Linked DNA regions of Homo sapiens. The protein of the gene in region 3 interacts with the protein of the main gene of each other region in a pairwise test. Each region holds a gene or a part of one and is shown on either strand. Other genes may lie near its edges.

The links. The genes of interacting proteins can lie anywhere in the genome.
Region 1: the proteins of SGTB (region 3) and LAT interact in binary tests that used the Homo sapiens proteins (3 or more experiments, as listed by UniProt).
Region 2: the proteins of SGTB (region 3) and FGF21 interact in binary tests that used the Homo sapiens proteins (3 or more experiments, as listed by UniProt).

What each region holds. Positions count from the first base shown.
Region 1 is NC_000016.10:28,980,299-28,988,062, forward strand, and holds the start of LAT (linker for activation of T-cells family member 1), read left to right. Parts: upstream 1-4,753; 5' UTR 4,754-5,077; coding exon of another isoform or gene 5,078-5,119; coding exon 5,120-5,219; intron 5,220-5,414; coding exon 5,415-5,442; intron 5,443-5,555; coding exon 5,556-5,590; intron 5,591-5,836; coding exon 5,837-5,918; intron 5,919-6,083; coding exon 6,084-6,148; intron 6,149-6,241; coding exon 6,242-6,271; coding exon of another isoform or gene 6,272-6,358; coding exon 6,359-6,416; intron 6,417-6,500; coding exon 6,501-6,595; intron 6,596-7,764. Other genes in the region: SPNS1 (protein spinster homolog 1), read left to right, coding at 1,172-1,317, 1,603-1,758, 2,058-2,247, 2,559-2,624, 2,894-2,992, 3,907-4,141, 4,311-4,381. UniProt on the Homo sapiens protein: Required for TCR (T-cell antigen receptor)- and pre-TCR-mediated signaling, both in mature T-cells and during their development.
Region 2 is NC_000019.10:48,751,101-48,758,534, reverse strand, and holds FGF21 (fibroblast growth factor 21 precursor), read right to left. Parts: upstream 3,012-7,434; 5' UTR 2,751-3,011; intron 2,645-2,750; 5' UTR 2,299-2,644; coding exon 2,064-2,298; intron 1,610-2,063; coding exon 1,506-1,609; intron 606-1,505; coding exon 315-605; 3' UTR 205-314; downstream 1-204. Other genes in the region: FUT1 (galactoside alpha-(1,2)-fucosyltransferase 1), read left to right, coding at 7,254-7,434. UniProt on the Homo sapiens protein: Stimulates glucose uptake in differentiated adipocytes via the induction of glucose transporter SLC2A1/GLUT1 expression (but not SLC2A4/GLUT4 expression). Activity requires the presence of KLB. Regulates systemic glucose homeostasis and insulin sensitivity.
Region 3 is NC_000005.10:65,719,101-65,726,871, reverse strand, and holds the start of SGTB (small glutamine-rich tetratricopeptide repeat-containing protein beta), read left to right. Parts: upstream 1-4,762; 5' UTR 4,763-4,955; intron 4,956-6,042; 5' UTR 6,043-6,064; coding exon 6,065-6,164; intron 6,165-7,771. Other genes in the region: NLN (neurolysin, mitochondrial), read right to left, coding at 4,458-4,498. UniProt on the Homo sapiens protein: Co-chaperone that binds directly to HSC70 and HSP70 and regulates their ATPase activity.

The sequences.
Region 1 (7,764 bases), on a different chromosome or scaffold from region 3:
ATTTTTTTTTTTTGTAGAGATGGGGTCTTTGTATGTTGCCCAGGTTGGTTTTGAACTCCTGGCCTCAAGCAATCCTCTTGCCTTGGCCTCCTAAAGTGCTGGGCTTACGGGTGTGAGCCATGCGCCTGGCTCCAAATACCCCTTTTTTGGGGCAGCTCTCATTCTGCTGAGCCTGCAGGAGACTGGCTGCCCTCACCTGGAAGCCATGTGCTAGACAGAATTCTTGCGTGCAGGTGACAGAAGCCCATTGTAAAACTGTAAGCCCCCTAGAGGCCGGGTGCGGTGGCTCACACCTGTAATTCCAGCACTTTGGGAGGCCAAGGTGGGTGGATCACAAGGTCAGGAGATTGAGACCACCCTGGCTAACACAGTGAAATCCCGTCTCTACTAAAAATACAAAAAAAAATTAGCTGGGCGTGGTGGCAGGTGCCTGTAGTCCCAGCTACTCAGGAGGCCGAGGCAGGAGAATGGCGTGAACCCAGTAGGCGGAGGTTGCAGTGAGCCGAGATCGCACCACTGCACTCCAGCCTGGGTGACAGAGTGAGACTCTGTCTCGAAAACAAACAAACAAACAAACAAACAAACCGTAAGCCCCCTAAAGGGGCTGTCTTGGCTTTCTTCCTGAAAGTCCCAGGTGAGCTTCAGTCAGGTAAAGCTGGATCCAGGGCTCCCACACTGCCCTTCTCTTCTGAGCTTTACTTTCCTTTGTGTTAACATCATTCTTAAGGACGTGAGAACTCCAGATGATTACCTTTCCATTTAGCAACATTGGCACCTTGGACCCTGGGGCCGTGTTTCCAGGATAGCGTCTGACTAGATGAACATGCATCACGTGCCCTCTGCGGAATCCGTCACCGAGGCTGGGGTGGTTAACAGTCCTCTTGTTGGCCAAGCCTGGGATCCTATTTAAACCAAGTGGATTGAGAGAAGTAGGGGTACTGGTTTCCCAAAAGAAAATTACCAAAGAGGAGACAAAGCTAGGCTTGCAAAAATAGGGTGGCCCCTAGTGGCAGCCCCCTTCCCCCAGATTGCAGGTTCGGCTTCTTGGAGCAGGCACTTAACTGGGTATTTTAGGTCTCAGGCTGGAGTTATCTGTACCCCACACTCTCCTCCAGCCCAGGGCTTGAGTGTGTCTCTCCCTGTGCCTATCCTGAAGCCCTCTGTCTCCCAGGTGACACCGGGTCTAGGAGTGGTGGCCGTTCTGCTGCTGTTCCTGGTAGTGCGGGAGCCGCCAAGGGGAGCCGTGGAGCGCCACTCAGATTTGCCACCCCTGAACCCCACCTCGTGGTGGGCAGATCTGAGGGCTCTGGCAAGAAAGTGAGTTTATTCCCACCCTAGACCACCATCTGAGGCCCCCTGGCGTCTGGTTTGAGGTTTAAGTGGGGATGTTCCTGTTCCTGGCCACACCCCAAGGCCAGTAATTCGGTCGATACTGTCCCCTTGTGGCAGCTGCTTGAATTACAGGCCCAGATCCTGGGAGCCAGAACCACCTCTGCACGGTGTTGTGACCTTACTAAAATAAGCCAGGAAGGGAGAAGAGAGGTCCCCTCCTGCCTCGACACCTCCGTGGGGTCTTACTCTCTCCCTCCCAACTATCTGCAGTCCTAGTTTCGTCCTGTCTTCCCTGGGCTTCACTGCTGTGGCCTTTGTCACGGGCTCCCTGGCTCTGTGGGCTCCGGCATTCCTGCTGCGTTCCCGCGTGGTCCTTGGGGAGACCCCACCCTGCCTTCCCGGAGACTCCTGCTCTTCCTCTGACAGGTGCCCAGATGGGGCTATGCTGGGGGGCCTGCGGGTGGCAGGGCTGGAGTGAAGAGCATCTGTGGCTCAGACCCAGGCAGGGAGTTTGACTCCTGACTTCACAAGCTGCCTGCTCTCCTGGAATCTCCGTTTCCTGGTCTGGGAAATAAGTGATGGGATGATGTCTGCCACTCAGGGCTGTGCCAACCATGGGGTGCTGTGTCTGTAGGGACCTTGGTTGTGAGGGTGGCTAGGATGGACAGCGTAGGGGCCTTGGCAGGCACAGGGACAAACCCCCCATTCCCTTCCCTCACCCCTAGTCTCATCTTTGGACTCATCACCTGCCTGACCGGAGTCCTGGGTGTGGGCCTGGGTGTGGAGATCAGCCGCCGGCTCCGCCACTCCAACCCCCGGGCTGATCCCCTGGTCTGTGCCACTGGCCTCCTGGGCTCTGCACCCTTCCTCTTCCTGTCCCTTGCCTGCGCCCGTGGTAGCATCGTGGCCACTTATGTGAGTAGCCAGCAGGTGTCAAGGGGGATGGCGTGGGTCCAGGGTGGAGGAGCAGTCAGCGTAATGGCCACTCGAGGTGGAATGCCTGGTTTTGAATCACAGCTCTGGCTCTTCCCAGCTGTGTGACATTGGACAAGTGACTTAACCTCTCTGTGCTCAGTTTCATCATGTGTAAAATGGGGATATTAGTAGCACCTGTCTCACTGGGGTGTGATGAGGATTAAATTAGTTAATAGATGAGCTGGGAACATGGTCAACTTTCCATGTGTTAGCCCTTACTGTCATGAACCCCCGACCCTCTCTTCCCCCAGATTTTCATCTTCATTGGAGAGACCCTCCTGTCCATGAACTGGGCCATCGTGGCCGACATTCTGCTGGTGAGTTGCTGGGCAGCTCCAGGGTCAGCGCAGAGGCTGATGAGAGCAGAGTTGGGGTCAGGAGTGTTGCCTCTACCCCTCAAAGCCCAGCCTCAACCTACCTTCTGCAATAAATAACATCTGTAGCAGACCCCCGGCCTGCCCTGCGACCTCAACCCCAGGCACACCTCTGACCCCGGCCTAGGCGGATCCTTGGTGGTCTCCTGGCCCCCTGCCTCCTGCCCCCTGGAGCCCAGAGCATCCACTGAGCTCCACCAACTCCTCCACAGTACGTGGTGATCCCTACCCGACGCTCCACCGCCGAGGCCTTCCAGATCGTGCTGTCCCACCTGCTGGGTGATGCTGGGAGCCCCTACCTCATTGGCCTGGTGAGCATTATTTCTTGGCTGGCATGGGGTGGCTGGTGTCCTGAGCCTGGGCTGGATCAGAAGGCCTGGCCCTAGTGAAGTGTCTGTGTCCTGCGTGCTGGGCACTTCTCACCTTCCATTGTCAACTGGAGGAGAAAGATTTTGTCTTTGAATATTTCTACCAGTAAGGCCAGGGACCTCACCCTGGTGGTCCAAACTCCTCCTTTCTTTTCTCTTTTCTTTTCTTCCTGAGACAAGACCTCACTCTGTTGCCCAGGCTGCAGTGTAGTGGCACGATCATGGCTCACTGCAGCCTCGACCTCCTGGGCTCAAGCGATCCTCCCACCTCAGCCTCCTGAGTAGCTGGGATGATAGGCATGAGCCACTGCATCTAGCTCAAACCTCCTTCCCTTTCCTGGGCTCCACTTGTCTTTCTCCCTGGAGCTCAGGGGCGTGCCCTCCCTGGTTCATCCATGAGGCTGACTCCCCTGGCTTTCCTGTCTCCTCTCCCTGCAGATCTCTGACCGCCTGCGCCGGAACTGGCCCCCCTCCTTCTTGTCCGAGTTCCGGGCTCTGCAGTTCTCGCTCATGCTCTGCGCGTTTGTTGGGGCACTGGGCGGCGCAGCCTTCCTGGGCACCGCCATCTTCATTGAGGCCGACCGCCGGCGGGCACAGCTGCACGTGCAGGGTCAGTTAGGAGCTGTGCCCGGCCCAGCTTCTTGATCTGCCTGTCTGTCTGTCCATCTGTCTGCCCACTCCTGTGCACCTGGCAGCTCAGTCCACAGCCCTCCCCTTGTTTGGCCTCCAGTCTGTCTGCATCCACCCCTGGGGTGGCTCTGTGGCTGCCCCATCCATTTCCCGCTGCCTGTTTGCCCTTCTCTGGCTTTGTCTGTCTGTCCATCCAGCTCACCCTGGCTCTGACCCTCCCCCCTCAGGCCTGCTGCACGAAGCAGGGTCCACAGACGACCGGATTGTGGTGCCCCAGCGGGGCCGCTCCACCCGCGTGCCCGTGGCCAGTGTGCTCATCTGAGAGGCTGCCGCTCACCTACCTGCACATCTGCCACAGCTGGCCCTGGGCCCACCCCACGAAGGGCCTGGGCCTAACCCCTTGGCCTGGCCCAGCTTCCAGAGGGACCCTGGGCCGTGTGCCAGCTCCCAGACACTACCTGGGTAGCTCAGGGGAGGAGGTGGGGGTCCAGGAGGGGGATCCCTCTCCACAGGGGCAGCCCCAAGGGCTCGGTGCTATTTGTAACGGAATAAAATTTGTAGCCAGACCCCAGGTGCCTGCTCTCGTCTTTCTCTGGGTGGCCTCTGATCTTGCACCCCGTCTTCACCCCAGGGCTCCTGAAGACTGTGGGTCATTCCTCAGGGCTCTGGGTGAGTCTCTGCCCTTCTGGGCTGGGCGACTGAGATGGGGGACTGCTCTTCTCCGAGTGAGCTGGCTGAGTGTGACCGTGAGTCACGCCCCTGCTTCCCTGGAGCCTGTCCCTTGCCTCACAGGCCTGGCTGAGGTGGGGGTGGGCACTGCCCTTTGTACCCCAGAATTCCCACTGTCAGGGCCTCCCTGCTCGCTGCCTCCCCGGGTCCTGGATATGGAGGCCACGGCTGCCAGCTGGCAGGTGGCTGTCCCCGTCTTGGGGGGGGCCAGCAGACCCTTGGTGAGTGCCTGGGGTGGCTCCCGGGCCTCCTCCTGCCCCCTCCCCACTGGCGGGTGGGGTGGGAAGGGGGCGGGTGCAGCCGGCTGAGAGCTTGATGATTTCCTGCCCTCGCCCGGCGCTCACCACAGCTTCCTGCCGCAGGCGGGCGGGAGGGCGGGCACGGAGAGGCGGGCGCCGAGGAGGGGCAGGTAGGGCTGGGACGCAGGGGTAACTGGATCCCCCGACTTCAGCCCAGGCCCTGGTCTGACCACCCTGGGAGCAGGGACTTTCCACAGTCAGCTGGACGCACACTCAGCCCAGTAAAAGAGGGGACCCATCCCGGGAGCCCCGGGGAGGGCACAGCTGCCTCCTCCCGGGCTCCCCTGCCACCTGGTGCCTACCTGCCCCCTGCTCCCTGCCGGGTCCGGTCCTCACCCCATCTTCATCTGGCCTTGACTCTGCCCTTGAGGGGCCTAGGGGTGCAGCCAGCCTGCTCCGAGCTCCCCTGCAGATGGAGGAGGCCATCCTGGTCCCCTGCGTGCTGGGGCTCCTGCTGCTGCCCATCCTGGCCATGTTGATGGCACTGTGTGTGCACTGCCACAGACTGCCAGGTGAGTGGGAAACTGGTGGGGGTACCCAGGGCCCAGGGACACCGACGGGATCCTCATCCACTCCCAGCCCCTGTGTCTGTCCTGGCTCTGTCCCTGCCTCCGTCCTGATCCCAGCGCCTCTGAGAGTCCCTGGATCCCAGCACCTTCTGCCCTAAGCACCCCCTGTTCCTGCCTCACCAGCCCTCTCTTTCCCAGGCTCCTACGACAGCACATCCTCAGATAGGTGAGTCCGCCCCAGCCGCCCTGGGTCTCCCTCCACACCCCATGGCGGGGCAGGGCTGGGGCTTCCATCCTCCATCTTCCAGCCCCATCCCCAAGCTGTGTCTCCTTTACCAGTTTGTATCCAAGGGGCATCCAGTTCAAACGGCCTCGTGAGTACAAGGAGGGTCCCCTACCTTGGGTGCCAGGGAGAGGGTCCCCTGGTGTGGGAGTGAGCGTGAACCTTCAGACTTCCCCTGCCACCTTGGGGCTGCCCACATGGCCTTGACCTGAGCTGGGAGAGGGGAGATGGCTCCCCCAGGCCTGTCCAGGGTGTGGGGCTTTCAGGGGCTTAGTCTGTTCTTTGAGGCCTTGACGATGTCCGGAGTCCTTCTTTCAACTTGGTTCTGTGTCCTCAGACACGGTTGCCCCCTGGCCACCTGCCTACCCACCTGTCACCTCCTACCCACCCCTGAGCCAGCCAGACCTGCTCCCCATCCCGTGAGTAGCTGCTCAGCCCCTGCCCCTCCAAAGCTCAGCCCCTCCCCCTCCAAACTCCACTCTCTACCCCTTCACTTTTTTGGATTGGGGGCCCCTTTCCCTTTTGCAACTGCTGTTGCCCCCTGAGCCCCACCTCAGGCATGACCCCTGACCTTTGACTCCCAGAAGATCCCCGCAGCCCCTTGGGGGCTCCCACCGGACGCCATCTTCCCGGCGGGATTCTGATGGTGGTAAGTGTGGGGAAGGGTTCAGGCGGCGGGGGCTGGGAAGAAGATAGGCCTGGCCTGAGCTGACTTAGTCTCCCTCTCACCCTCTCTTTGAAGCCAACAGTGTGGCGAGCTACGAGAACGAGGGTGCGTCTGGGATCCGAGGTGCCCAGGCTGGGTGGGGAGTCTGGGGTCCGTCCTGGACTAGGCTGACCCCTGTGTCGTTACCCCCAGAACCAGCCTGTGAGGATGCGGATGAGGATGAGGACGACTATCACAACCCAGGCTACCTGTGAGTGGCCAGGTGGGAGGTGGGAGGTGAGGGCTGAGGCTGTGCGTCCCCCCTTGCTCACCGGCCCTTTTCACTTCCTTTCAGGGTGGTGCTTCCTGACAGCACCCCGGCCACTAGCACTGCTGCCCCATCAGCTCCTGCACTCAGCACCCCTGGCATCCGAGACAGTGCCTTCTCCAGTGAGTCAGGCATTTGTTTTTATTTTTAAATTTTTTTAGGGATAGGCTGGAGTGCAGTGGTGCCATTGTAGCTCGCTGCAGCCTTGAACTCCTGGGCTCCAGTGATCCTCCCAAGTAGGCTACTCGGCCTCAGCCTCCCAAGTAGCTGAGACCACAGGCGCATGCCACCACACCTAGCTTATTTAAAAAATTTTTTTTGTAGAGATGGTCTCACTATGTTGCCCAGGCTGGCCTTAAACTCCTGGGCTCAAGTGATCCTCCCACCTCGGGCTCCCAAAGTGCTTGGGATTATAGGCGTGAGCCACCATGCCCGGCCCTGTTCTTCTGATTTTCTCAGCTTTCTCTCTCTTCTTTCCTATCTCTGTGTCCTTTCCTTTATCATCTGGGAGATTTCCTTGTCTGTATTCTTCAACCCTTCCACTGCAATTTTATTTCTCCTATCCAGAAGCTCTTTCTCGTTCTCTGGCTGTTCTTTTTTTATAGCCTCCTGTTCTTGTTTCATGGATGAAACATCTCTAAGGATGTTAATTAGAGGCTGTCTTGTGTGTCTGTGTGTGTCAGTTTTCTTCTGCTTCCTGCACTGCCCTGTTTCCTTTGAGCTGGTTTTCTCCCTTCCTCATGGTCTCATCCTGCCTGGTCACATCCTCTGGGCTTTCCTCAATGTCCGGGATTCTTTAGTTTTCTGTTGCTTTGCTCTCTCTGTATATACTTGTCCTGGGCTATCACTTCTATACCCTGGCTTTGTTTGCCATCCAGATTCCCAGTTTGCTCTCTCCTGAGCTCCAGACTGTATCCAAGTACTTCTTTTCTTTCATTCATTCATTCATTCATTCATTCAGCATTTACTATGTGCCTCTGCTGGGCTAATGCTGTGGATATAACAGTTAAGGAGGCAGACTGTCCTGATAAAATAGCTGGCTGGGCATGGTGGCTCACTCCTGTAATCCTAGCACTTTGGGAGGCCGAGGCGGGAGGATTGCTTGAGCCCAGGAGTTCAAGACCAGCCTGAGCAACATGGCGAAACCTCATCTTTAAAAAAAAAAAAAAAATTAGCCAAGCGTGGTGGCACATGCCTGTAGTCCCAGCTGCTCAGGAGGCTGAAATGGGCGGATCATCTGAACCCCGCAGGCGGAAGTTGCAGTGAGACGAGATCATGCCACTGCACTCCA
Region 2 (7,434 bases), on a different chromosome or scaffold from region 3:
AGATCGCGCCACTGCACTCCAGCCTGGGTGACAGAGCGAGACTCCGTCTCAAAAAAAAAAAAAGAAAAGAAAAGAAAAAAGTGAGGCCCAGTGGGAAGCCAGGACCCTCGGACCACGTGAGGGGAGGTGTAGAGGGGATTGTCCGGGCCAAGGGAGACAAAACAGCTGCCATGTCTTCCCTCAGACACTCACACATGCTCATTCTTATCCTCCTCTGGAACTCTTTATTATCTCAAGTAAGAAAAATAAAAAAATAAATAAGATAAATAACCTAATAAATAAAGAGGAGATGTCATAGTAAACAGCCTCTGGCTTCAGGAAGCGTAGCTGGGGCTTCGGCCCTGGGAAGGTCCCACCATGCTCAGAGGGTCCGAGGAGCCCACATCGGGGGGCTGGGGGGCCAGGATTCCGGGTGGCTCCGGGAGTGCGGGGGGCAGGCCTGGTAGTGGCAGGAAGCGAGCTGGTCCTCGGGGTGCAGGGTCCCGGTGTGGGGACTTGTTCCCTGGCAGGTGCAGCGGGAGGCCGTGGGCTTCGGACTGGTAAACATTGTATCCGTCCTCAAGAAGCAGCTCCCGGAAGCTGCAGGCCTCAGGGTCAAAGTGGAGCTAGGGGACAAAAACAGGATCAGAGACAGGGTTCCTCTGTTTTCCTGATGTAAGACCCAGGATCCAGGCCCCAGCCCTGCCTCCCTCAGACCCAGGGGTCCAGGCCCCCAGCGCCTCCTCCCTCAGACCCAGGGGTCCAGACCCTAGTTTCTCCTCCATCCGACCCAGGAGTCCAGGCCCCCAGCGCCTCCTCCCTCAGACCCGGGGTTCCAGGCCCCAGCCTCTCCTCCCTCAGACCCGGGGTTCCAGGCCCCAGCCTCTCCTCCCTCAGACCCGGGGTTCCAGGCCCCAGCCCCTCCTCCCTCAGACCCAGGGGTCCAGGCCCCCAGCCCCTCCTCCCTCAGACCCAGGAGTCCAGGCCCCCAGCCCCTCCTCTAGGAAACAAAACAGCAAGGCAGGTTTTGTTTTTTACCCCAGGGCTCTCCTGCAGGGACCTGCCTCCCAGTTCAGACTTCACAGAGAACATTCCAGCCCTCGGAGCCATCAGTGCTCTCTCAGGCCAGGCGGGGTGTCTCCCTAGCACTCAAGGTCCTGGTCACTTTACTGGCCATGGCTTCCCCGAGTGTCCCTGTGCCCAGCATGAGCCGTGCACACAGGGGCCGTGTGGGCAGGAGCAGGGGTTACTGAATCACGAGACTCCCAATAACCTGAGCCTCAGGCCGCTCCAGCATCCACACATCACATGATTGAGGTCACTGGCGCCCCGGCCTGGGCCTCAGTTTCCTCATCTTGCAAACACTGATGACAACTTCAACCTCCAAATGTTGCAGCTGGGGGCGTGCAGAGCAAATAGAATCAAGTCTGGCTCCGGGGGGGATGAGCAAGACAAGGCACCCCAGGCTGTGAGGGCGACATATAGGAGGAGCATGGTGGGTGGTGAGGAGGGTCCTGGAAACTCACCGATCCATACAGGGCCCCATCTGGCCGCTGGCACAGGAACCTGGATGTCTTGACTCCCAAGATTTGAATAACTCCCGGCTTCAAGGCTTTCAGCTGCAGGAGACCTAAGGGGTGAAAGCGATAAGGTGGTTCGAGGACCTCTCCCACCCGGGACTGTCCCACCACCCGACTCTGTCCCACCATCCGGCTCTGTCCCAGCCCTGGGAGTCCAAGCCCACAGCCTACCTCCTCCCTCAGACCCAGGAGAAGCCCAAGCCAAAGCCCCCTCCCAACTCAGACCCAAGAGTCCAGGACCCCAGCCCTTCCTCCTTCAAACCCAAGAGTCCAGACCCCCAGCCCCTCCTCCCTCAGACCCAGGGGTCCAGACCCAGCCCCTCCTCCCTCAGACCCAGGGGCCCAGATCCCCAGCCCCTCCTCCCTCAGACCCAGGAGTCCAGATCCCCAGCCCCTCCTCCCTCAGACCCAGGGGCCAAGGCCCCCAGCCCCTCCTCCCTCAGACCCAGGAATCCAGACCCACAGCCCCTCCTCCCTCAGACCCAGGCTCTGGCCCACACTCACTTTCGGGGCTCTGGTCAGCAGCGCCCCCCACCGTCCCATCCTCCCTGATCTCCAGGTGGGCTTCTGTCTGCTGGGCATCATCTGTGTAGAGGTACCGCTGCCGGACTTGGCCCCCGAATTGCAGGAGAGGACTGGAGTCAGGGATGGGGTGTGCCTGGCAGGCTCCCAGCAGAAGACCAGCCAGCACAGAAACCCACAGTCCTGAGTGCTCGAACCCGGTCTCGTCCGAGTCCATCAATGGCTCGGGTCCTCAGGTGATCTCCGGGGTGTGAGCTCGGAGAAGCTGAGTGGTTTAGAATTGGTGCCAGATTCCAGTTGTCCAGGTGAGTAGACTCAGGTGGCCTGAGTGCCTGGCTCCTCTTTCGGCTGGATCCTCAGCTGACAGAACACCCTTGTTTTTTGGGATAGATGCAGAAGCTCCAGAATTTATACCCAGACAGGCCCGCCCAATCACCCTCCCTGCGCCTGAACCATGATATTTGACCCATTTGGCAGGAGCTACAGAATTCCATCGTGGCAAGGGCAGCCTGAATGGATGATGTAACCTGGGGTCCTTTCAATGGAGGGCCAGACTCCTGGGTCTAGGGGATGAGGGAGGGGAGGATCGGGTTAGCTGGGACCCAGGTGAAAGGGGCTGGGGGCCCACATTCCTGAGTCTCAGAGAGAAGGATCTGGGGTCTCAAGCACCTGAGTCGGAGGGAGGAGGGGTGCTGGGCTCCTGGAAAAACCACCTCTTGGACCATCTATGCAGATCACGCAGAACAAGAGAAATTTCTGCGCCCCATCTGAATTTCTAAGTTTGGGGGGAGGGCGTGATCTGACACTGAGGTTCCTTGATCCTCAGCAAGGCGGCAATTGCTGTATGAAAGAAGCGACCGCATCTGAGACACAAGTATCCTGCCTTGGAAGCCTCTCACCTGGCCGTGGGCCAACCTCAACCTCATCTGTCCCTGCTCAGATGCTCAGACCCTGGACATCCCAGCCTCCTCCTCCCTGATGCAATCCTGGTGTTTCTTTCACCAGAGAAGCCATCCCAGGCCCAGGCAGGTGCTCCTGAAATAACCTGGGGGGAGGGGTGGCTGAAAGTCCCTGACTGGAGTTGGCAGCCAAGCCAGGCCCTGGAGTGGGCACCCAGAGGGAAGACAGGTTGGCTAATTTCCTGGAGCCCCTAAGGGTGCAAGGGTAGGCCTTCTGTGTCTGAGGGAGGAGGGCTGGGGCTCTGGACTCCTGGGTCTGAGGGAGGAGGGGTGGGGGGCCTGGACTCCTGGGTCTGAGGGAGGAGGGTCTGGGCCTGTACTCCTGGATCTGAGGGAGGAGGGGCTGGGGAACTTGGGCTCCTGGGTCTGAGGGAGGAGGGAGCTTTGGTCTGGACTCCTGGGTCTGAGGGAGTAGGGGCTAGGGATCTGGACTCGTGGGTGTGAGGAAGGAGGGGCTGGGGTCCTGGACTCCTGGGTCTGAGGAAGGAGGGGCAGGGGGCTTGGACTCCTGGGTCTGAGGAAGGAGGGGCCGGGAGCCTGGACTCCTAAGTCTGAGGGAGGAGGGTCTGGGGGCCTGGACTGCTGGGTGTGAGCAGAAGGGTCTGGGTGCTGGGAGTCCCGAGCCTGGGGAGATGATGGTTAAACTTCTGGGAATCAAGTCAAACTCCTGAGTCTTTGACATTGATGTATCTTGAATGGGAGGGTCAGTCTGTGGGGAAGGATTACCCAGGTGCCGAGGCAAGAGACTGAAGGCACAAACTGTTTCAGTATAATAAAGAAAATAGTTAGAATAAGAATAGTTATCATACAAATTAGATATAGAGATGATCATGGACAGTATCAATCATTAGTGTAAACATTATTAATCATTAGCTATTACTTTTATTCTTTGTTGTATAACTAATATAACCAGGAAACAACCGGTGGGTATAGGGTCAGGTACTGAAGGGACATTGTGAGAAGTGACCTAGAAGGCAAGAGGTGAGCCTTCTGTCACACCGGCATAAGGGCCTCTTGAGGGCTCCTTGGTCAAGCGGGAACGCCAGTGTCTGGGAAGGCACCCGTTACTCAGCAGACCACGAAAGGGAATCTCCTTTTCTTGGAGGAGTCAGGGAACACTCTGCTCCACCAGCTTCTTGTGGGAGGCTGGGTATTATCTAGGCCTGCCCGCAGTCATCCTGCTGTGCTGTGCTTCAATGGTCACGCTCCTTGTCCTCTTGCATTTTCCTCCCGTACTCCTGGTTCCTCTTTGAAGTTCGTAGTAGATAGCGGTAGAAGAAATAGTGAAAGCCTTTTTTTTTTTTTTTTTGAGGCGGAGTCTCGCTCTGTCCCCCAGGCTGGAGTGCAGTGGCGTGATCTCGGCTCACTGCAATCTCCGCCTCCTGGGTTCACACCATTCTCCTGCCTCACCCTCCCAAATAGCTAGGACTACAGGCGCCCTCCACCACGCGCCCGGATAATTTTTTGTATTTTTAGTAGAGACAGGGTTTCACCGTGTTAGCCAGGATGGCCTCCACCTCCTGACCTTGTGATCCGCCCGCCTCAGCCTCCCAAAGTGCTGGGATTACAGGCGTGAGCCACCGCGCCCGCCCGAAATAGTGAAAGTCTTAAAGTCTTTGATCTTTCTTATAAGTGCAGAGAAGAAAACGCTGACATATGCTGCCTTCTCTTTCTGCTTCGGCTGCCTAAAAGGGAAGGGCCCCCTGTCCCATGATCACGTGACTTGCTTGACCTTATCAGTCATTTGGACGACTCACCCTCCTTATCCTGCCCCCCCTTGTCTTGTATACAATAAATATCAGCGCGCCCAGCCATTCGGGGCCACTACCGGTCTCTGCGTCTTGATGGTAGTGGTCCCCCGGGCCCAGCTGTTTTCTCTTTATCTCTTTGTCTTGTGTCTTTATTTCTTACAATCTCTCCTCTCCTCACAGGGGAAGAACACCCACCCGCAAAGCCCCGTAGGGCTGGACCCTACGTTAGCCTGCCCTGCTCGGGGTTGGCGATGCTGGAGGTGGGCCTTGGACCAGAGAAAATGCTTTAATTAGGTGACAAGCGGGCAGAGGCCTTTGTCTCTGGCGCCGGCAGCCACGGCCCCCGCTGACGGCGTGGGAAACAGACCCTGTTCCACTCCGGTCTCCAGCCTTGGAATGGTTGCCTTCGTGCAGTGCAGGTCTGGAAAGTAGCAGTTTGGCACGGGACCCTAGAATTCCCCAAAAGGAGTGACTAGGGGCTGGGATTCTGGAATTTGAGTGTGGACGGTGAGGCGGGGGGTGTGGGAGATCGGAGACCCTGGTGGGCGCGGGAGCACCTGCAGGCTGGAGGCCCTCGCGCGCTCCGGCGGCAGCCTGGCAAACAGGTTCTCCATCCCCCAGGAGGACGCGGCAGAGGGCGGACGATCGCTCCACTCGCCGGGACCAGGTGCGGGGGCCCTGCCCAGCCGCTGGGGCGTGGCCAGGCTCGAAGCACCCAGGTGTCGGGGGCCGACTCTAAGCCCTGGCACCGGAAGAGAGAGGGCGGCGGATTGGACCTCCCGGCTCCAGCATTGCAACTGGGCGCTCCGTCTCCTGGTCCACGCAATGATGCTGCGGCTGCTCAGAAGCCAGGTAGCCTGCCCTGGGTGAAGCCTTCGCGCAGGTCAATGACGGGGCGGAGGGGCAGGGCGCGGTCCCCTGCATCCCCGATCTGGGGAGCGGTGGGCCCAGGGGCCATCGCCTTAGCCCCTGGCGCTGGGGCTCGGCGCCAAGTGACGGGCGGGGCTCCACCTTCCAGCCATCCGCCCGGCCCGGGAGGGCGGACGCTGCGAGACTCCCGGCCGCGCCCTCTCCTTCCTCTCCTCCCCAAGCCCTCGCTGCCAGTCCGGACAGGCTGCGCGGAGGGGAGGGCTGCCGGGCCGGATAGCCGGACGCCTGGCGTTCCAGGGGCGGCCGGATGTGGCCTGCCTTTGCGGAGGGTGCGCTCCGGCCACGAAAAGCGGACTGTGGATCTGCCACCTGCAAGCAGCTCGGGTAAGTGGGGACTGCCCCACTCAGTTGTTCCTGGGACCCAGGAACAACTCCTTCAGAACCAGGAGGTGCACCCCCAACCTCTTCTCCAGGTCTTCCTAAGGCCCTAGGAATCTCCGCCACCTCCCCAGCCATTACTCCTCCAGGAACCAAGATGCTCCTTCCGCTCCTGACCCTCCAGCCTCTCTTGTTTTACTTGAACTATCGTTTCCCATCACCACCTCTGTGGTGGATTTTGCGCCTCACAGACAGGTACTCCTGAGAAACAGGCTGGTGGAAGAGTCCAGTATCAGCGGAACTTACAGGAGGGGAGACTCGAGATTCCTTCAGGAAAGGTGTAGGAACCTGGACCACTTTCTTTTTTTTTTTTTTTTTTTTTTTTTAAGACAGGGTCCCTCTCTGTCGCGCAAGCTGGAGTGCAGTCAGCGGTGCTATCGCGGCTCATTGTGAGCTCCGGGGATCCTCCCGCCTTAGCATCCGGTGTAGCTGAGACCACAGACATGTGCCACCATGCCAAGCTAATTTTATTTATTTTTTTTTGGAGACGGAGTTTCACTCTTGTTGCCCAGGCTGGAGTGTAATGGCATGATCTCAGCTCACCGCAACTCCCGCCCCCCGGGTTCAGGCGATTCTCCTGCCTCAGCCTCCCGAGTGGCTGGGATTACAGGCATGCGCCACCATGCCCGGCTAATTTTGTATTTTAAGTAGAGACAGGGTTTCTCCACGTTGGTCAGGCTGGTCTCGAACTCCCAACCTCAGGTGATCCACCCACCTTGGCCTCCCAAAGTGCTGGGGTTACAGGTGTGAGCCACCGCGCCTGGCCCATGCCAAGCTAATTTTAAAATTTTTTTGTAAGAGTGCTCTGTTGCCCAGGCTGATCTTGAACTCCTGGGCTCAAGGGATCCTCCCATCTCAGCCTCCCAATATGCTGGGATTACAGGTGTGAGCCACAGTGCCCAGCCAAACCATGGCTATCTTGAAAACCACTTGTCTTCCAGTCCCCATGCCCCGAAATTCCAAGGCTCTCATCCCTGAAACCTAGGACTCAGGCTCTCCCTACCTCAGCCCCAGGAGTCTAAACCTTTAACTTCCTCTTTCCCTGGGACTAAGGAGTGCTGCACCCCAGGCGCCTCCCTTACCCCACATCCCTCCTCAGCCTCCCCTCCTCAGCCTCAGAGCATTTGCTAATTCGCCTTTCCTCCCCTGCAGCCATGTGGCTCCGGAGCCATCGTCAGCTCTGCCTGGCCTTCCTGCTAGTCTGTGTCCTCTCTGTAATCTTCTTCCTCCATATCCATCAAGACAGCTTTCCACATGGCCTAGGCCTGTCGATCCTGTGTCCAGACCGCCGCCTGGTGACACCCCCAGTGGCCATCTTCTGCCTGCCGGGTACTG
Region 3 (7,771 bases):
ACACAGGGGGTCCTCCATGTTGTCTAATATGAACTCTTTTGGAAGATACTGATTTTGAAACAGAGCAGATTCTGTGATTAAGTCAAGGAAGCCCTGGGTTAAGGACTACCATATATGATGATTAACTGTAAGATATGCCCTTATGTAACAAATTAGTTAATATATTTATGGTAGCTTCTAACAAGGTAATAATTTTTTGGCTATTAGTATATTTATTTTCTTCCATGCATAAACAAAGAATCTAATACCACATATCGGCAGCTCTCAAAATGTAGTCCACAAACCTTAAAGGTAGAGGTATGGGGAGGGGTTCCTGAGACACTTTCAAGGAATCTGTGAGGTTAAAAATCTTTCATAACAATACTAAGACATTATTTATCCTTTTTACTTTATGAACATTTGCACTGATGGCGAAAAGGAATGGTGGATAATACTGTTGGTACTTCAGCACAAATTGAGGCAATGACACCAAACTATACTAGTAGCTATATTTTTCATTGCCATGCACTCAGGCTAAAAATAATGTCAATTTCATTTTAGAATATCCTTAATGAAATGGTAAAAAGTATGAATTTTTATTAAATCTCTACCTTTGAGTTATATGTGACCAAGTACACACAAAGCATTTCTGCTGTGTACCTGAGTATAAGGGTTGTCCTGAGGATTTGGTTGCCCAAATCAAAAGCACTTTTGCAATTGGTTGAACTGTGAGCTGAAATAGATTTTTTTCATGGAAAACCATTTTTTTTTTTTTTTTTTTGAGACGGAGTCTCGCTCTGTCGCCCAGGCTGGAGTGCAGTGGCACAATCTCGGCGCACTGCAAACTCCACCTTCCGGGTTCACGCCATTCTCCTGCCTCAGCCTCCCGAGTAGTTGGGACTACAGGCGCCCGCCACCACGCCCGGCTAATTTTTTGTATTTTCAGTAGAGACAGGGTTTCACCGTGTTAGCCAGGATGGTCTCGATCTCCTGACTTCGTGATCCACCTGCCATGGCCTCCCAAAGTGCTGGGATTACAGGCGTGAGCCACCGTGCCCAGCCCATGGAACACCATTTTTACCAGAAAAAAACTACTGACAGACAAACCAGGGTTATTCAGACTTAAGTATGTGGCAGAAATTCTGTCAAAAATGTAACAAAGTGAGATTGTCACTTCAAGTAAAACAACTGACAGTTTGTGTTACCAATGATAAAATTCTAGCTTTCAAGTGAAAACTAGAATTTTGGAAAATCCTATCTGCCACTGTGAGCTTGACAGCTTCCCAATACTTGAAGACTTTTCCGACTAAATAGGAAGACATTAAGGAAAGTGATTGTTTGATACTGTATAATGAAATATGTCAACATTAGGAAGAACTGTATAACACAGTGAACCACTAAAATTTCCGAAGGACTTATGCTTAATGTTTTAAAAAACAGGCATGGATTCAACATCCATTCAAAGTGTAAGGTACACCATTGGATATTAATGTAACAGTGTAAAACAAGTACATTGATATAGTTTCAAATTCCACTTTGTAACTAACCTTTAAAAAGCTACGATTTGTCAAACTTTGATGTGATATCAAAGAACATCCATGATTATCTTTAAAAAGCTATTAAAATATTCTTCTTTCCAACTTCATATGACTGTGAGGTGGGATTTTCTTCATCTTAAACCAAAATGAAACAGTGCAGCAGCTTAAATGCAGAGGCAGACATAAGAATCCAGTTACCTTCTATTATGTCACACATTAGTTTTGCAAAAATGCGAAACAGTGCCACTTCTGCCGGGCGCAGTGGCTCACGCCTGTAATCCCAGCACTTTGGGAGGCCGAGACAGGCGGATCACGAGGTCAGGAGATCGAGACCATCCTGGCTAACAGGATGAAACCCCGTCTCTACTAAAAATAAAAAAAAAAAATTAGCCGGGCGTGGTTGCGGGCGCCTGTAGTCCCAGCTACTTGGGAGGCTGAGGCAGGGGAATGGCGTGAACCCGGGAGGCGGCGCTTGCAGTGAGCCGAGATAGCGCCACTGCATTCCAGCCTGGGCGACAGAGAGAGACTCTGTCTCAAAAAAAAAAAAAAAGAAAAAAAAAAGAAACAATGCCACTCCTAGGATAACTGTTATCAAAACCAGGAAATAAGTGCTGATGATGATGTGGAGAAATTGGAATCCTTAGGTACTGCCAATGGGAATGTAAAAATGGTACAGCCACTGAAGAAAACAGTATGGTTTCAAAAACTAAACATAGTACTATCCTATGACTCAGCAATTTTCACTTCTAGGTACATACAGTATCCCAAAGAATTAAAAGCAGGGATTCAAACAGACATGTGCACATTAATGATCATAGTAGTAGTATTCACAATAGCCAAAAGGTGGAAGCAACCCAAATGTCCACTGACAAATGGATAAACAAAATGTGGTATATACATACAATGAAATATTATTCAGTTTTAAAAAGGAAATCCCGACACATGCTTCAAAACGAATAAACCTTAAAAACGCTATACTAAATAAACCAGACGCAAAAGGACAAATATTGTCTAATTCCACTTATATAAGGGACCTGAAATACTCAAATTCATAGAGAAAAAATAATGGTTAACCAGGGATTGGGGGAGGAAGTAATGGGCAGTTATTGTGTAATAGGTACAGGGTTTCAGTTTGGGATGATGACAAGTTCTGGAGATGGACAGTGGTGTTGGCTGTACCTCTCAATTGTACACTTAAAAATTATCAAAATGGTAAATTTTGTTATATCTTACCACAATTTTAAAAAAAAGGGAAAAAACCCCACAATGTTAATCTTCTCACTGATTGGGGGGCGGGGGGGTTGGTTTGGAAAATAGTTATTTTTCATTAAAATCACTATTTATGCACCTAGCCTATTTATTAGTTTTGTAAATTAACAACTACTTTAATTTTTTTCCAGCTTTAATGTCTAATATGGTAAATATAGACAGATATACCACACAAACAGAAGCTCTTAGGTCCACGGTAATTTTTGAAAGGTAAAGGGGTCCTGAGAATAAAAAGTTTGAGAATTGTTCTTTTTTTTTTTTTTTTTTTTTTGAGACGGAGTCTTGCTCTGTCGCCCAGGCTAGAGTACAGTGGTGCGATCTCGGCTCACTGCAAGCTTCGCCTCCCGGGTTCATGCCATTCTCCTGCCTCAGCCTCCCGAGTAGCTGGGACTACAGGCGCCCGCCACCACGCCCGGCTAATTTTTTGTATTTTTTAGTAGAGACGGGGTTTCACCGTGTTAGCCAGGATGGTCTCGATCTCCTGACCTCGTGATCCACCCGCCTCGGCCTCCCAAAGTGCTGGGATTACAGGCATGAGCCACAGCGCCCGGCCGAGAATTGCTCTTATATGAAGATTTATTCCCTCCTCTCACCCCTGCATTATGTGAAGTCTTCATTTCTTGGTATAACTTCATTTGACAGCTATATCGATTGCAGCCTGGAGACTAGCAAAAAACGACAGGCTGAAATATGGTCACCAATCACCACATTAACTCTTTGTAATTAACCACTGTCGCCTGCCTGCTCCCTAACTCTACGGACTGAGCAACACAAAGCTCCATCCACACAGACGAGTGGCAATGTGCAAAAGGGAACTGTAGAAAGCTTAAATGCTGACATGTTACAAAGTAGTTTTGTTGATAGCTAGCAAGAAGCACACATTTTCTTTATTCTGTTGAATCTTCATTTGGATTTACAGTTCTGGGCAGATTTGGAAACGGGGATGGTGGCGGCATTGTTTCCGAAAACCAGCGCATCCGTGCAAAGAATTTAATTCCCTCACCATCTTGCTACTGGTCTGTTGCAGTGGGGTGTGGTTAGAGGGCTAGGAAGCAATCCAAAACAGCAGCTCAGGCTGCCCAAAGCCGTGTCCAAGCGATCATTTTCTCCATTTTGGGCCAAGTCAATTTGCACCGGCAAGAGGCAGAATGTTTGTTTTATGGGGAGGAGGAAAATAAAAAAGGAAGTCAGAGAGCATGGACGGAAACAAGCAACACCACCAAAGAGGTTTCATCTCGGGTGGATGTTAAACGATTGGAATGCTAATAATGGGCGCGAGGAGCAAACACAATTGTTCTGAGTCCACAGCTGCGGCACTTTTAATGACAGGTCTGTAGTTCTGCATTGGGATTGAACGTGAAATGATTTTCTTATCCAAACTATTTGCATTCATTTTGGGCCGCGTCTGTGACCAGCCTCGCTGACTGCGGCTGAGGCAGTCCCAAACAAAGAGGAATGGACGTCCTCCCGAGGGAGCGGAGGCGGGAAAGGTGGCCCCAGGTGGCCGCGCCAGGTGTCCCCCAGGGGTCCACCTTGCAAGCCGCGGGGAGGGTGCGTCCCGGGAGCGTCGGAGAGGCGCGGTCGGGAAGGGGTGGGTCCGGGCTCCAGGCACCACACGGCGAAAGACCCCGCCCTGCCCACGGCCAAGGTTAACCCGCGCGCTGGAGGTACCTGCGGAGGCTTCGCACAGCCAAAAGGCACCGGGCGATCATGGGAGCGCTGAGAGGCTGGCGGCGGCGGGCGCGTGGTCCTTCGGCGTGGGGCGGCGAGGCGGGCGGCAGCGCCTGGGCGCCCGGGAGTCTCGAGCCGGCCTAGCCGCAGAGGCCACAGTGGCTGCCTGGCCAGCGCCCTCCCACGTGCGGCAGCTCCACGCCGGCGCCTACCAGCCCCGCCCCGCGCCGTGCCCCGCCCCAGCTCGCGTGTCTGGCCCCGCCCCAGCCCTCGCGTCCGGCCCCGCCCCAGGGGCGGTGCTGGCCAGACCCTGCCGCCTGAGAGAGAGCACAGCCTGGTGGGTTCTGGGGTCTACGGCCTAGGGGCCGGGGAAGTTTGCGCCGCCGCGACCAGTGCTGCGATCCCGAGCCGGGCTCCAGCCCCGAGGACCAGGGGTCGGGCGGGCCTGCCTACGGAACCCCGCGGGCCAGCAGCAGTCGTCTCGCGTCCTCCTGCTTGGTAAGGGGCTTCTGTCTGGCAAGGGTGCGCCTCCCGCCGCTCCGGACCGGGGCCCGCACCGGCACCCGCTGCACACCGGGCAGGGCCGAGGCGAGGCCGGGTACCTGAGGGAGGACGGAAGGGAGGGGGAGCTCGATGCGCTCTGGGGAGAGGAAGGGGGAGAAGCCTATTTCCCTCTTCTCACCCCTTTTCCCCCCATTCTGTTTTTACCTTCTGCCCTGGGGCCTTATTTAGTGCTTATGACCCCGTGGCCTAGAGGCTGACATCGCCTTTAAAATAACTACACAAATAATAAACATTATAGCGGCGGGTACCACACCCTGGCTTTGAATTAGGGAACCTGGGGAGCAGATGGATGATGCGATTTGGTGGAAATCAGCCATGAATGCCGCCTGGCCCTGCGCCACTGTTTGGATGCGATAGTATTCCATGTGAATGAACATGACCGGGAGCTTCCAGCTTGTCCACGAGAGCACAGCCTCTGCAGGGAGCGCCGGTCGGCTTGTAGTATCCATCGACTTGGGCAGCGATTTCCTGACATGTCTGCTGATTAAATAGAAATGCCATTTTTATTAAGAACGACACTCACCACTTGAATAACCTTTCGCGAATGTGTTTCCTCATCAAATAACTCTCAACCTACAAAAGTGGGTAGAGTGTACATTATTAATACTTTTTTTAGATCCCATGAAAAAGAGGAAGATGCTTGGTATACATCAGCTTTTAGTCAGCAGTATGAAATGCCTCTTAACTTAGTACTGAGGCCTTTAGGGGATTTCTGTATGGTGAGATATGCAGTGACAGTCTAAGCTTATGCTGTACATGTTTTGAAGACATTTTTACTTATTCCAAGATTTAACATACTCGTATACCACTGGGTATTAATGAAAATATGTAATAAATTACCTTCACAATACTTTGTGCTCTCCTGACTCTTTACAAAGAGAAAAGATGAAAGGTCATACAGTTTTGTGTTTTGTTTTTACCTTTAATACACTTTATAACCCATATCATCTTTGTAATTTATGACTTTCCTGACTGATTCTTTAAAATAACTTAGTTCAGTGTTTTCATTTTTCTTATCAAGGAAAAGTGTTTAAGCTTCTAAAATGTCATCTATCAAGCACCTGGTTTATGCAGTTATTCGTTTCTTACGGGAACAAAGTCAGATGGACACTTACACCTCGGATGAACAAGAAAGTTTGGAAGGTATGCATCTGCTCTTTGTGTTCATTTATATTATAATTATAAACGAAGACTAAAATAGCTGTAAGCCCAACTTGATGATCTATTGTAACATAATCAGAATTTTTTTTGATCTTTCAAGAGGAGAGGCCTGACTATAAGGTTATCGTATTTCCATTTTCTGAAGCTTGTTTTGTTTGTTTTAACAACAAATTAAGAGGACTATTGTTCATTTATTGAACAAATACTATATGTCAGAAGTATGCTGTTCATATTATAGGCAATTTTTTCTTCACAGCAACTGTTATGTTAGTATTATCCCCATTTAACAAGTGAGAAAATAAAACCAGGGCCAGGCTTGGTGGCTCATGCCTGTAATCCCAGCACTTTGGGAGGCCGAGGCAGGTAGGTCATTTGAGGTCAGGAGTTCAAGACCAGGCTGGGCAACATGGCAAAACCCTGTCTCTACTAAAAATACAAAAAGTAGCCAGGTGTGGTGGCACTTGCCTGTAGTCCCAGCTACTCAGGAGGCTGAGATAGGAGGGTGGCTTAAACCCAGGAGGTGGAGGTTGCAGTGAGCTGAGATCACACCACTGCACTCCAGCCTGGGCCATGAGCGAGACCCTATCTCAAAAAAAAAAAAAAAAAAAGAAAAAGAAAATGAAACCAAATAGCGTAAGCAGATAACACAGCTGATATGTGATAAAGCTGAGATTTAAATCCTGGTTAATACTCTGAAGATCTTGTTGTCTCCATTTCCTAATAGGAAAGCATCCAGTTTAGAAATAATATATAAAAATACCTGAGTCATTTTAATAGCACTATGTAAAAGTCTAATAATTATACCACTAGTGAGATCTGACCAGTGCCTAATTTGGAACTTGAAATGGGAGCATTTCACCTGTGTTTTACGTTAACTTTAATATTGGATTCGGTAATCTGTAAAGTTGAACAGGATGTGGGTGATAGCATCATGTGTTTCCTCGACACCGTCTTTGTTCTTCATGTTTATGTGTTATAAAATTTAAATTCAGTACAACCATAACAAGGTAGAATTCTGCAGATGGGCTTGTGGAGGTTCAGTGAATCTGGTGTCCCTGTGGCCTAAAGTCTTTTATTTATTTATTTATTTTTTGAGACAGGGTCTGTCTGGCTCTGTCACCCAGGCTGGAGTGTAGTGGCACAATCTCGGCTCACTGCAACCTCCACCTCCTGGGCTCAATTGATCCTCCCACCTCGGCCTCCTGAGTAGCTGGGACTACAGGAGTACACTACCACACCCGGCTAAGTTTTGTATTTTTTTTTGTAGAGACAGAGTTTCGCCATGTTGCCCAGGCTGTTCTCAAACTCCTGGGCTCAAGTGATCCACTCGCCTTGGCCTCCCAAAGTACTGAGATTACAGGCATGAGCCACCCCTCCCAGCCCCAAAGTCTTAATTATTGCAGTGAGAGTGCATTTGGAAGAACTTAATAAATGACAGTATAGTTATAAATCCCATCTTGAAACTGCTTCTATAATTTCAACAAGCATTTCCCTGTGAATATGCTTTTAGGAGGTGGAGATGAAAATTGGGCATTTGCTCTAAACCTCCTTGCAGTCTGGTTAGTTGATGTCTTTCCAGGTGGCAGTGA